Regions from separate parts of the Homo sapiens genome. Here region 2 is linked to region 1. Evidence: fine-mapped expression QTL. Tissue or cell type: macrophages. Region 1 holds a variant in brackets; the other region holds the start of a gene. All regions are shown on one strand. Distances are between the middles of the regions. Region 1 overlaps FTO (FTO alpha-ketoglutarate dependent dioxygenase). Region 2 holds the start of CHD9 (chromodomain helicase DNA binding protein 9).

What was found.
Region 2: CHD9 starts here. The variant in region 1 is fine-mapped to the expression of CHD9 in macrophages (Alasoo 2018, PIP 0.95).

The regions. Positions count from the first base shown.
Region 1 is chr16:53,818,664-53,823,663 of GRCh38, forward strand. All of the region lies in intron 2 of FTO (FTO alpha-ketoglutarate dependent dioxygenase), which reads left to right. Among named protein-coding and RNA genes, the nearest start is that of FTO, 120 kb to the left of the region's middle. The variant A/G (reference allele first, on the strand shown) is at 1,923.
Region 2 is chr16:53,052,182-53,057,620 of GRCh38, forward strand. CHD9 (chromodomain helicase DNA binding protein 9) reads left to right here and starts at 2,810. Exons shown (of 39, transcript NM_001308319.2): 1 at 2,810-2,896. CHD9NB (CHD9 neighbor) reads right to left here and starts at 716. Exons shown (of 3, transcript NM_001396020.1): 1 at 580-716. RefSeq lists enhancers at 3,104-3,635, 3,148-3,197.

The DNA.
Region 1 (5,000 bases):
TTTTCTGTGAGCTTTTACATATGTACTGTTTTTCTTTTAATGAAACTGAGATCTCTTGTCTATCTTGTTACTAATTTCTTCTATGAGTATAGTTTCCTACTGACTTCCAAACAGTTAAGTTTGTTACTTTAATATTCCATCACGTGGTTGTACCATTTTCCCTTCTAAACCCTTCTTGGGCATTTTGGTGGTTTTCAGTTTTTAATTATTATCAATAGCAGTATGATGAATATTCTTATAATCTTGGTGTGTTTAATAACTTCCTTATGACAAATTCCTAAAAGTAGAATAACTGCATGAAAAGATATGGGCATATTTAGGTTCTGATAGATCTTGTCCAATTGGCCTTAAGCAACATTGTAATAATTTGCATTCCTAATTGCACGCTATCAGAATATTGAATTTTGCCATTATCAACAATATGTATTACTATTATAAAATGTTTTAATGCAAATTTGATAGACAGTAACTAATTTAAGTATAATACAAATTATATATTTTCCAACTTTGATACAGTTAATATTTATTTATTTATCTATCTTTGAAATGGGGTCTCACTCTGTGGCCCAGGCTTAGGCTCACTTCAGCTTCCACTTCCTGGGCTCAAGCCATCCTTCCACCTCAGCTGCCCAAGTAGCTGGGACCACAGGTGCATGCCACCACACCTGGCTAATTTTTTTGTATTGTTAGTAGAGAGGGGATTTCACCTTGTTGCCCAGGCTAGTCTCGAGCTCGTCAGCTCAAGCAATACACCCGCCTGAGTCTCCCAAAGTGCTGGGATTACAGGTGTGAGCCACCACGCCCAGGCAGTTAATTTTTTTATGTGCTAAGAGGCTTCTCTATTAATTTGCTTGTGAATGGGTGTGTGTGTGTGTATTTAAATTTTTAATGGTTCTGCATTAATGTTTCTGCATTCCTGCCATATAGGTTGTACTTTTTTTTTCCAGTTTGTTTGCCTTTTAATTTTATGATTTATTTTATACAAAAATTTAAATTTTCAGATATTCACATCTATCAATCTTCTTTTTCAAAAAGTTTATTGATTAACTGTATATGTGTATAATTTACATACCATAAAATGCACGTTTTGAAATTGTACAATTCAGTGATTTTTGGTAAATTTCCAGAGGCATACAACCATCATCACAGTAGTTTTAGAACATTTTTAGCACCCCAAAAAGATCTCTCATGCCTCTTTACATTTAGTTTTCTTTCCTGCCCCAGCCAAGATCTCCACTCATCTGCTTCAGTCTTTTAAAGCTTTTATTCTTAGAAAGGAGTCTTGAGCACTTATGTGGAACCAAGTGATGTGGCTATAACAGATACTAATGCTATTTTCTTCTTCTTCTTTTTTTTTTTTTTTGAGATGGAGTCTTGCTCTGTCACCCAGGCTGGAGTGCAGTGGTGTGATCTCGGCTCACTGTAACCTCTACCTCCCGGGTTCAGGTGATTCTCCTGCTTCAGCCTCCTGAGTAGCTGGGATTACAGATGCCCGCCACCACGCCCAGCTAGTTTTTGTATTTTTAGTAGAAACAGGGTTTTACCTTGTTGGCCAGGTTGGTCTCGAGCTCCTGACATCAGATGATCCAGCTGCCTCGGCCTCCCAAAGTGCTGGGATTACAGGTGTAAGCCACCGCTCCAGGCCACTAGTACTATCTTCTTTTAGGAGCTTGTGATCTTACAGGACAGATTATTAAACTAATAATAGTTTAAATAAATATAGTTACAAATAGATAAGTGCTACAAAAGAGAAGTAAAGCGTGGGGAGTGATAACAGAGGGCACCTATTTGAGGGTGGAGATTCAGGAAAGGTTTCCTTTTTTTTTTTATTATACTTTAAGTTTTAGGGTACATGTGCACATTGTGCAGGTTAGTTACATATGTATACATGTGCCATGCTGGTGCGCTGCACCCACTAACTC[A/G]TCATCTAGCTTTAGGTATATCTCCTGATGCTATCCCTCCCCCTCCCCCCACCCCACAACAGTCCCCAGAGTGTAATATTCCCCTTCCTGTGTCCATGTGATCTCATTGTTCAATTCCCACCTATGAGTGAGAATATGCGGTGTTTGGTTTTTTGTTCTTGCGATAGTTTACTGAGAATGATGATTTCCAGTTTCATCCATGTCCAGGAAAGGTTTCTATAAGAAAATGACCCAGGGATGGGAAGGACCATCCAGGTGTGGAGTTGGGGGAGGAGCCTGGGGGAAGTATTTAAGAGCTGGACACTTGAGGACTGCAGGAATAGAAGCACATATGGTCAGAGAGAAAGGGGACATGATCTGAGTGGGAAAAAAATGGAATATTTTCCCATGCCATTATTTTCTTTTTATGCTGTTTTTTATGTCAAGGTATTTACAGATGATATTTATGTGGTTATATGTTTTTCCTGGTCTATAGGGTTATAATTTCCCCATATTAAATATATCTTATGCAGTGTTGAGACCCAGTGTATGTTGAATAAGGGCAGCAGAATTTTAATGGGGGGTGGGCAGGCGTTTGTGCATATGAGTGCATTATTTTCAGTATTCCTTTCTTAGTCCCAGAGGGGAGTGTGTTCAGAAACAGAGTTCTTGGGAATTACCATACTTTTCTTTATTGTTTTATACTAAGGACCATTCAGAGAGTACTGGAGGTGTTAAGACAGTGTGAAGAAATTACCTTCTTCATCACTTCTTCATCATTGCTTTGAGTATACTGGGGCCTCAGGGACTTGCTAAGAAAGTAACCAGTATAGTGATAGAATTAGAGTTGCTGCTCATGGCTTCAGAATATTTGGTCTCTGCTTACAGGATTGCATTGCTTTCTTCATAAGCTATGTAAATAGAAAGTACGATATCACTGTTTCTGTTTTCCAATGGGGATAACTAAAATATGGAAACTCAATCCTTAATGGATCCCTGACAATCTCAATGACAATCCATAGTGGTATGCCACATGACTCTTCTCTTTGTCACTTTCAATTCATGGTCAACACCTCAGATAGGCATTTTGAGAAGCAGGGCAGTCCTACCACACTTACCTAGTAAAGTCATTTTTTCACATTCAGACTTGACTCATTCATTTTTCTTCTGCATACTTCCTCCCACTTTCTGCATGTCTTCTATAATATCTCCTGCACTCTGCCTCATTCAGAACAGGCTAGATTATGCTATAGTAACTGATAACTCTCAAATCTCAGTGGCTCCACACAATAATATTTCTTGTCCATTTTATGTATCATTTGTGGGTTGGCACAGAGTCACTACCCATTAAAGTAGCTCAGAGATCCAAGCAGCCACCAGCTGGTTGCTGTGGCAGAGGGGTGCAGAGTATGCTGGAGGGTCTTGCAGTGACAATGACATGTTCCAGGCTGGAAGGGATGGCCATCATTTTTCACTGGACAGAAGTAATCCCATGTTTCATCCATCCTGAGGGGACCAGGAAGTGTAATTTTACACTGGGCCCAAAAAGCTGGGTGGCAGAGGAGGAATCCAGAACTATTTGGCAAACAGCTCTAATGACCAGCATACATTCTTAGCTAGTGATTCACCTTAACTTCATTGAGAAAGTCAGAGCATTCTCTAACTACCACCCCTCCAAAAGAAACCCTAGAACGTACTCATCTGCCTACTATTATTACATTTATCATCCTATCTGAATTCATACCTTCTTTTTCCTTCTAGCCTATTCCAATATAAGAAGTATCTTCTCTCCTATCCACATATTTTTGATCACATACTCTTATCAGTAGATAAGCACATACAGTGACATCCTAGAAAGTGTTTAACAAGTGGCCTGTAGGGGGAAAGAACCAGCCTTGATTTTTAGTGTTTTTTGATTTCCGCAGTGTAAATACTCTCACTGTGGACAGTTTCAAGCCACCGTCACGGTGTTACTGAATGTGCAGTTGGAAAGAGATGCACACAGTGGGCTCTCATGAGCCAGTGTGGACTGACTCCAGCACACCACCAGTAGTGTGCTGGTGGTAGTACTCATGTACTCGTGTCTGTTTTATAATAATATTCATATTAAACCTATTTGTGTGTATATGTGTGTGTGTATATATATATATGCATACATATTTTAATAATGCTTGAGTTCTTTCATTTTATATTAAAAATAAAGCAGTTCTACCTCTCCCCTGTGCCCCACCACTCTTCCAGATGGCCTTACAAAGCCTTGCATACCTGACTTGGGGGCTACTGCTCTAGACACTCAAGGTCTCGACTTCTTTGGTTATTCACTCTCTCTGCATCGTCAGCCTCTTTCTCTTGTATCATTCTCATGAGTGTACTGAGAAACTCTGGTGTTCTCTAGCGTCTTCCATCATTAGAGATTGTCCCTTAGTCTAGCCTTCTTCTTTATCAAAAGCTCCATTTTTCTACTCCCCTTCATAGCAGAACCATTCAGAGACATCTCTACATGCCATCTCACTTCCTCCTCTTTCATTCCATCTTCGCCTACTCCAATCTGACTTTCACCCCCAGCACTCTACTGAGATTGCTCGTGTCATTGCCATCAGTGATTTTCATGCTGCCAAATCTACTGGATCATCTGTCTTCATCTCACTTGGCCTCTCAGTGTCAGGTGACATAGTTGAGTACCCCGCCCTTCTAGAAATGCTCTCCTCTTTTAGCTTCTGCAATAATACACTCTGCTGGTTCTCCTTTGTTGAGGCTTCTGCTGCGACTCAGGAAATAGCTTTGGTCTCCTTTTGATATTTGTACTGTTTCCCTAGGTGATCTCATTCATTTCTAGGCCTTTAAAACCAAGCTGTGTGCTGATCACTCCCACATTGCGTTCCTCTGCCCTGCTTTCTCTTCTGAGCTCCAGATGTGTACATCCAATTCCCCTCCCCCCGCCCACCATATTTTCACCTGGAGGTTTCATAGGTATCTTCAAGGCTGCAGCTCTACAGTGAACTCTTCATTTCCCCCTTTTCTTCTTTCTACTATTTCTCTTTTGCCTCAGTTTTCCTTATTTCACAGAATAGTAAATTGTTTATTTAGTTGTTAAATCCA
Region 2 (5,439 bases), 770 kb before region 1:
CAGCCTGAGCAACATAAAAAAAAAAAAAAACAATAAACCCCATCTCTTAAAAAAAAAAGAAATTAAAATTTAAAAATTAGCCAGGCATGGTGGCACATGCCTGCAGTCCCAGCTACTTGGGAGTCTGAGGTGGGAAGATCCCTTGAGCTCGAATTTGTGGCTGCAATGAACAATGATCACCTGGATGACAGAACAAGACCCCATCTCTTAAAGAAAACTGTTAGTGTCTAACACGTTATAAATATTTTATTATTGTTATTTACATACTTCAGCCTACCAAAACTCCTGTTTTCCATGGAGAAAACAGATCTGTTGATAACTCTGCAGTTTCCAGAAACACTGTGATTAGCAGAATGAGAAAAATGCCAGGAGAACTCAGAAGAGAAAGTCACTAGGAAGACTTAATCTCATCAGGTGATGCCAGAATCCAGAGGTTGTAATCTAGGACTTTGCCCAGGCATGCTTTGGGGCACAGTGGTGGGGAGGGAGCTGTTGCAAAGATGGGGCAAGAATGGTCTGGACATGACTCAGACACTTTAAAGTGAAAGAATGGGAAATTGTCTGGCAGCTGGTACTTACCATGGGCAGTCAGCACTCCTCTGACTGATTCACCTTCACCAGGGCACCAGCCTGCAGTGAAGTAGCTGGGGCTGGTTCCTTTTAGTGACACCCACCACCCCTTGCCCTTCCAGGTATTGTCCACAGATGACACCTCCTCCTCCTCCTCCTGCTCCTCCTCCTGCTCTGCCTCCTCCTCCTCCCCCTGCTCCTGCTTCTCCTCCTCTTCCTCCTGCTCCTTCTCCTCCTCCTCCTGCTCCTCCTCCTGCTCTTCCTCCTCCTCCTGCTCTTCCTCCTCCTCCTCCTGCTTCTCCTCCTCTTCTTCCTCCTGCTCTTTCTCCTCCTCTTCCTGCTCCTCCTCTCCTTCTGCTCCTCCTGCTTCTCCTCCTCCTGCTCCTCCTCCTCCACCTGCTCCTCCTCCTTCTCCTCCTCCTGCTCCTCCTCCTTCTGCTCCTTCTTCTCCTGCTCCTCTTCCTCCTGCTCCTGCTTCTCCTCCTTTCTCCTGCTCCTCCTCCTCCTGCTCCTCCTCCTGCTCCTCATCCTCCTTCTCCTCCTGCTCCTCCTTGTCCTCCTCTGCCCTTGATATTCACTTTGACCAGATTACACCAGTACAGAGAGTCCAAAGGTTAAATAGGCACACACTCACACACAAACTCACACTGGGCTAGAACAATGACAGAGCGTCCTGGGGGAGCAGAGTGGGGGCCGGGGGGAGGGGGAAAGGAGGATTGCAGGCCTAACTTTCACAAATCACCTGAAATTTCCACTGAAGGCATTATCTCCAAATGTTGCCACAGAGATAAACTGCCAGGATTACAAGAAAACGTGAAGACGTTCCCATAGAACTCTGTAATGCTTATATCCATCACCAGGAATGTCTGCCCTTGGCGCCCTAAACATAGATTGATTGATTGATTGATTGATTGATTTTGAGGCAGAGTCTCACTCTGTCACCCAGGCTGGAGTGCAGTGGTGCGATCTCAGCTCACTGCAACCTCCTCCTTCCGGGTTCAAGGGATTCTCCCACCTCAGCCTTGGAGTAGTTGGGATTACAGGCTCCTGCCACCACGCCCGGCTAATTTTTGTATTTTTTGTAGAGACTGGGTTTTGCCATGTTGGCTAGGCTGGTCTCAAACTCCTGACCTCAAGCGATCCTCTTGCCTCAGCCTTCCAAAGTGCTGGGATTACAGGCGTGAGCTACGGTGCCTGGCCCTAAATATAGATATTTTTAATAAATCCTCTACTTATCTCACAACGAGCTCAATCGCTTTGCATTAGATCGTTGGGTGTGTTAAAAGTATTCATGTGTTACATTAAATGTGAATTCAACAAAAGCAGAGATTTTTGTGTTTTGTTCTTCATTGTATCCCTTGATTGTAGAAAAGTGGCACATAGTAGGTGCTCAGTTAATCGTTGTTAAATGAAGACATAAATGAAATATAAACCATTAAATGTCCACCATATTTGTAAGCGTTTTGGCATGTCTTCATTGAAAGAATACCAGGCAGCTGGGAGCCATAGTTTACTCCGGTAATCCCAGTGCTTTGGGAGGCTGCAGGTGAGAGGATCGCTTGAGACCAGGAGTTCAAGAGCCACCAGGGCAACATAGAGAGACCTTGTCTCTACAAAAACAAAACAAAACAAAACAAAAAACAAAAAACACAATTCCCTTAAGCCGCCCCTTCCCCTTCCACTGCTCAGAGAAGGCCTTCCAGCAGAGCAGAGCACGAGGTCGCTGGCACACACCCATCCTCCACCAGTCCTGGCCTCTGTAGAGCAAGCCAGCAGAGCAGGCTGTTTCTCTCATTCAGGGACGGTTTAGGGGGTGGCAGGAAAAAATGGTTGCTGATAGGCGAAGGGCCTCCCTGGGTTGGAGAGAACCCCAGCCTCGGATGGTCCCAGCACATTTAAAAGAGAAGCAGTGCCAAAGGTGGGGTGCACTGAAAGCTGCTGGATGAAGGGAAAGATCCTTGTGCTCAGCCCGGAAAACCGGAGGATGGATACCAGGCCGAGGGGTCCCTCCGTGCCCCAAGAGAAAGTTCACCAAGTTTAGATCCCAGTGCCCCGCAGCGGGTGAAGGTGGTCCCGCCCCAGGCCGGATCTGGCCACAGGGCTGGCGGCGCGCTGGAAAACCGCCCACGTGGGAAGAAGCCCTGGCTGCATTTCCGCCCTGGACTGCGCTCCCGCCTGCCAGCGCGGTCCCTGCGCAGCCGCCCCGCGCCCACTAGGTGGCGCCTGCGCTCTAGTGGGCGCTTCACAGGCGCAGCGACAGCGACAGCGACAGCTCGAACCTGAGTCCCAGGATTCCGGGGACTGGAGGGCAGCGCCGGCAGCCAAGGTAGGATTCCTGAGCCCCGGGCGTCTCCCTGGAGCCTCTGAGGTCGGGGTGGACAGCGGGGCGGCCGCTGGGCACCGCTTGCGGTCTGCAGAGATAACCGGAGGAGTCGGGGCGGCAGCACGTGTTGTAGCCGTGGGGGGGACCCAGAGACCCGCAGCCTCGGAGCTGGGCCTAGAGCAAGGCAGAGCACCAGGTCGCTGGCACGCTCGCATCCTCCCCAGCCCTCGCCTCCCAGAGCATGCCCGAATCCCCAAGCCGGGCGTCCTCGAAGCGGAAAGCAGCCACTGTCGCCCAGAGCCACTCCAGGGTGGCAGCCGAGTGCTGATAAGGTCCAGAGCACCACTTCTTAAACTTGTCTGCCCGTTGGCGTTGCTTGGGAAGCATTAAAAAAATACCGATGCCCTAGTTCCACCCCCGCCCCCCCCCAGAGACTCAGATGTGATTGGTCTGGGTGGGGGACTGGACATCTGGGTATTAAAATGTTTGCAAGAGATTCCAGCTGGCAGCCAAATTTGAGGACCCTTGATCTAAGGAGTTGGAGAAAAACGGAGGACATTTGTTTGTTCTAACCCAGAATGCTGATGATTCCCTCCTCCTCCTATTCCTCCAGTTCGCCCTCCTCCTCCTTTCTCATGTGCCTTTTAAGCAGGAAATGCCTCTGCCTTTGTACTGTCAAACCCAAGATAACAAACTAACCATCCCCCACCCCCCACAGTAGGGCTGGTTCTGAAAGGGTTGAACTCGAAAGTGGACAAGGAACAGAAAGACACCAGTGTGGAATGTGAGCGAAGACTCTTAGGGGTTTATGGGTAGGAAGGGGGTTCCTCCCCACCCTGATCCCAGAGAAGATCAGGAGACTGGCTGGAGCTGTCTTCCTCATTTTGGCAAACCTAGCTGATTAGGCAGTGAGAGGCCTTATAACGAGCCTTTTTTACAACTAGTAAAAGGGCCCTTTTACAACTAGTAAAAATGAGCCCTTATGTTTGTTTGTTTTATAGAGATAGGGCCTCACTATATTCCCCAGGATGGTCTCAAACTCCTAGGCTCAAGCCATTCTCCAGCCTCGGCCTCCCAAAGTGCTGGGATTATAGGCATGAGCCGCTGCGCCCCGCTGACCCCTTATGTTTATATAACAGCAGTGTTACTAACATGGGCATAGATTCCCCCCCATAGGCAGCCCTTCCTTTGTGACCTTGGAAACTCACTGAACCATCCTCAGCTTCAGTTTTTGTATCTGCAAAATGGGTGTGAAAATCGGGTTGCCTTGGGAATTATTCACAATAAAAGCTACTGTTTACTAAGGGTTCACCCTATGCTAGAGGCTTTCTGTGCAGGGCCAAGTTAGACTCCTGACCATAACTTCCACGGTAGAACTATGAATACTGCATTTGATAGCCAAGGAAACTGAGGCTCAGAGAGGCCAATGATCTTGCTCGAAGTTATATAATTAATTAATAAGAAGCATGTCCCATATTTGAACCCAGGCAGTCTGCTCTTGAGCTCAGGTGCAAAAGAACAATACTCTGCTGTTTCCCTTGTTGACCAGGACAGCGTGCACGGGGCAGGCGCGTGGTGTGTCTTCACAAACACTAGCTATCACTGCTGTGAGCTGAGCACTTCCACTGAATTGACTCATTCGCTCATTGGAAATACATTTATTATTGAGAGCCTACTGTGGGCCAGGCAGTTTTCCAGATGCTAGAGATAAAATATGAGTAAGACAGAATTCAGCCAGCCCCGAATGAGAGAAACAGGAAGAAAGTGCAGTAGATTCTCATTATTCACAAGTTCTAAATTTGCAAATTCTTCCCTGTAATCCCAGCACTTTGAGAGGCTGAGGCAGGAGGATCGCTTGAGGCTAGGAGTTTCAGATCAGCCTGTGCAACAGAGCAAGGCCCTGTTTGCTTAAAAATTATACACATTGAATAATTCTTAAAAAAAATTTGTTTGTGGCCAGGCATGGTGGCTCATGCATATAATCCCAGTACTTTGGGAAGCTGAGGCAGAAAGATTACTTGAGGCTAGGAGTTCCAGATCAGCCTGGGTAACACAGTAAGACCCTATATCTTTATTTTAAAAATTATATAATTAAAGAATTTTTAAAAAAATATGTTTGTGGCCGGGTGTGGTGGCTCACACCTGTAATCCCAGCACTTTGGGAGACTGAGGTGTGAGGTTAGGAGTTTGAATTTAGGAGTTTGACACCAGCCTAATCACTTGAGCTAAGGAGTTTGAGACCAGCCTGGACAGCATAGAGAGACCTTGGCTCATTTAAAAAAAAAAAGAGGAAAAAAGGCCGGGTGCAGTGGCTCATGCCTGTAATCCCAGCACTTTGGGAGGCCGAGGTGGGTGGATACCTGAGGTCAAGAGTTCGAGACCAGCCTGGCCAACATGGCAAAACCCCGTCTCTACTAAAAATTCAAAAAATTAGCTGGGCGTGGTGGCAAGAGCCCGTAATCCCAGCTGCTTGGGAGGCTGAGGCAGGAGAATTGCTTGAACCTGGGAGGTGGAAGTTGCAGTGAGCCAAGATCACGCCATTGTAC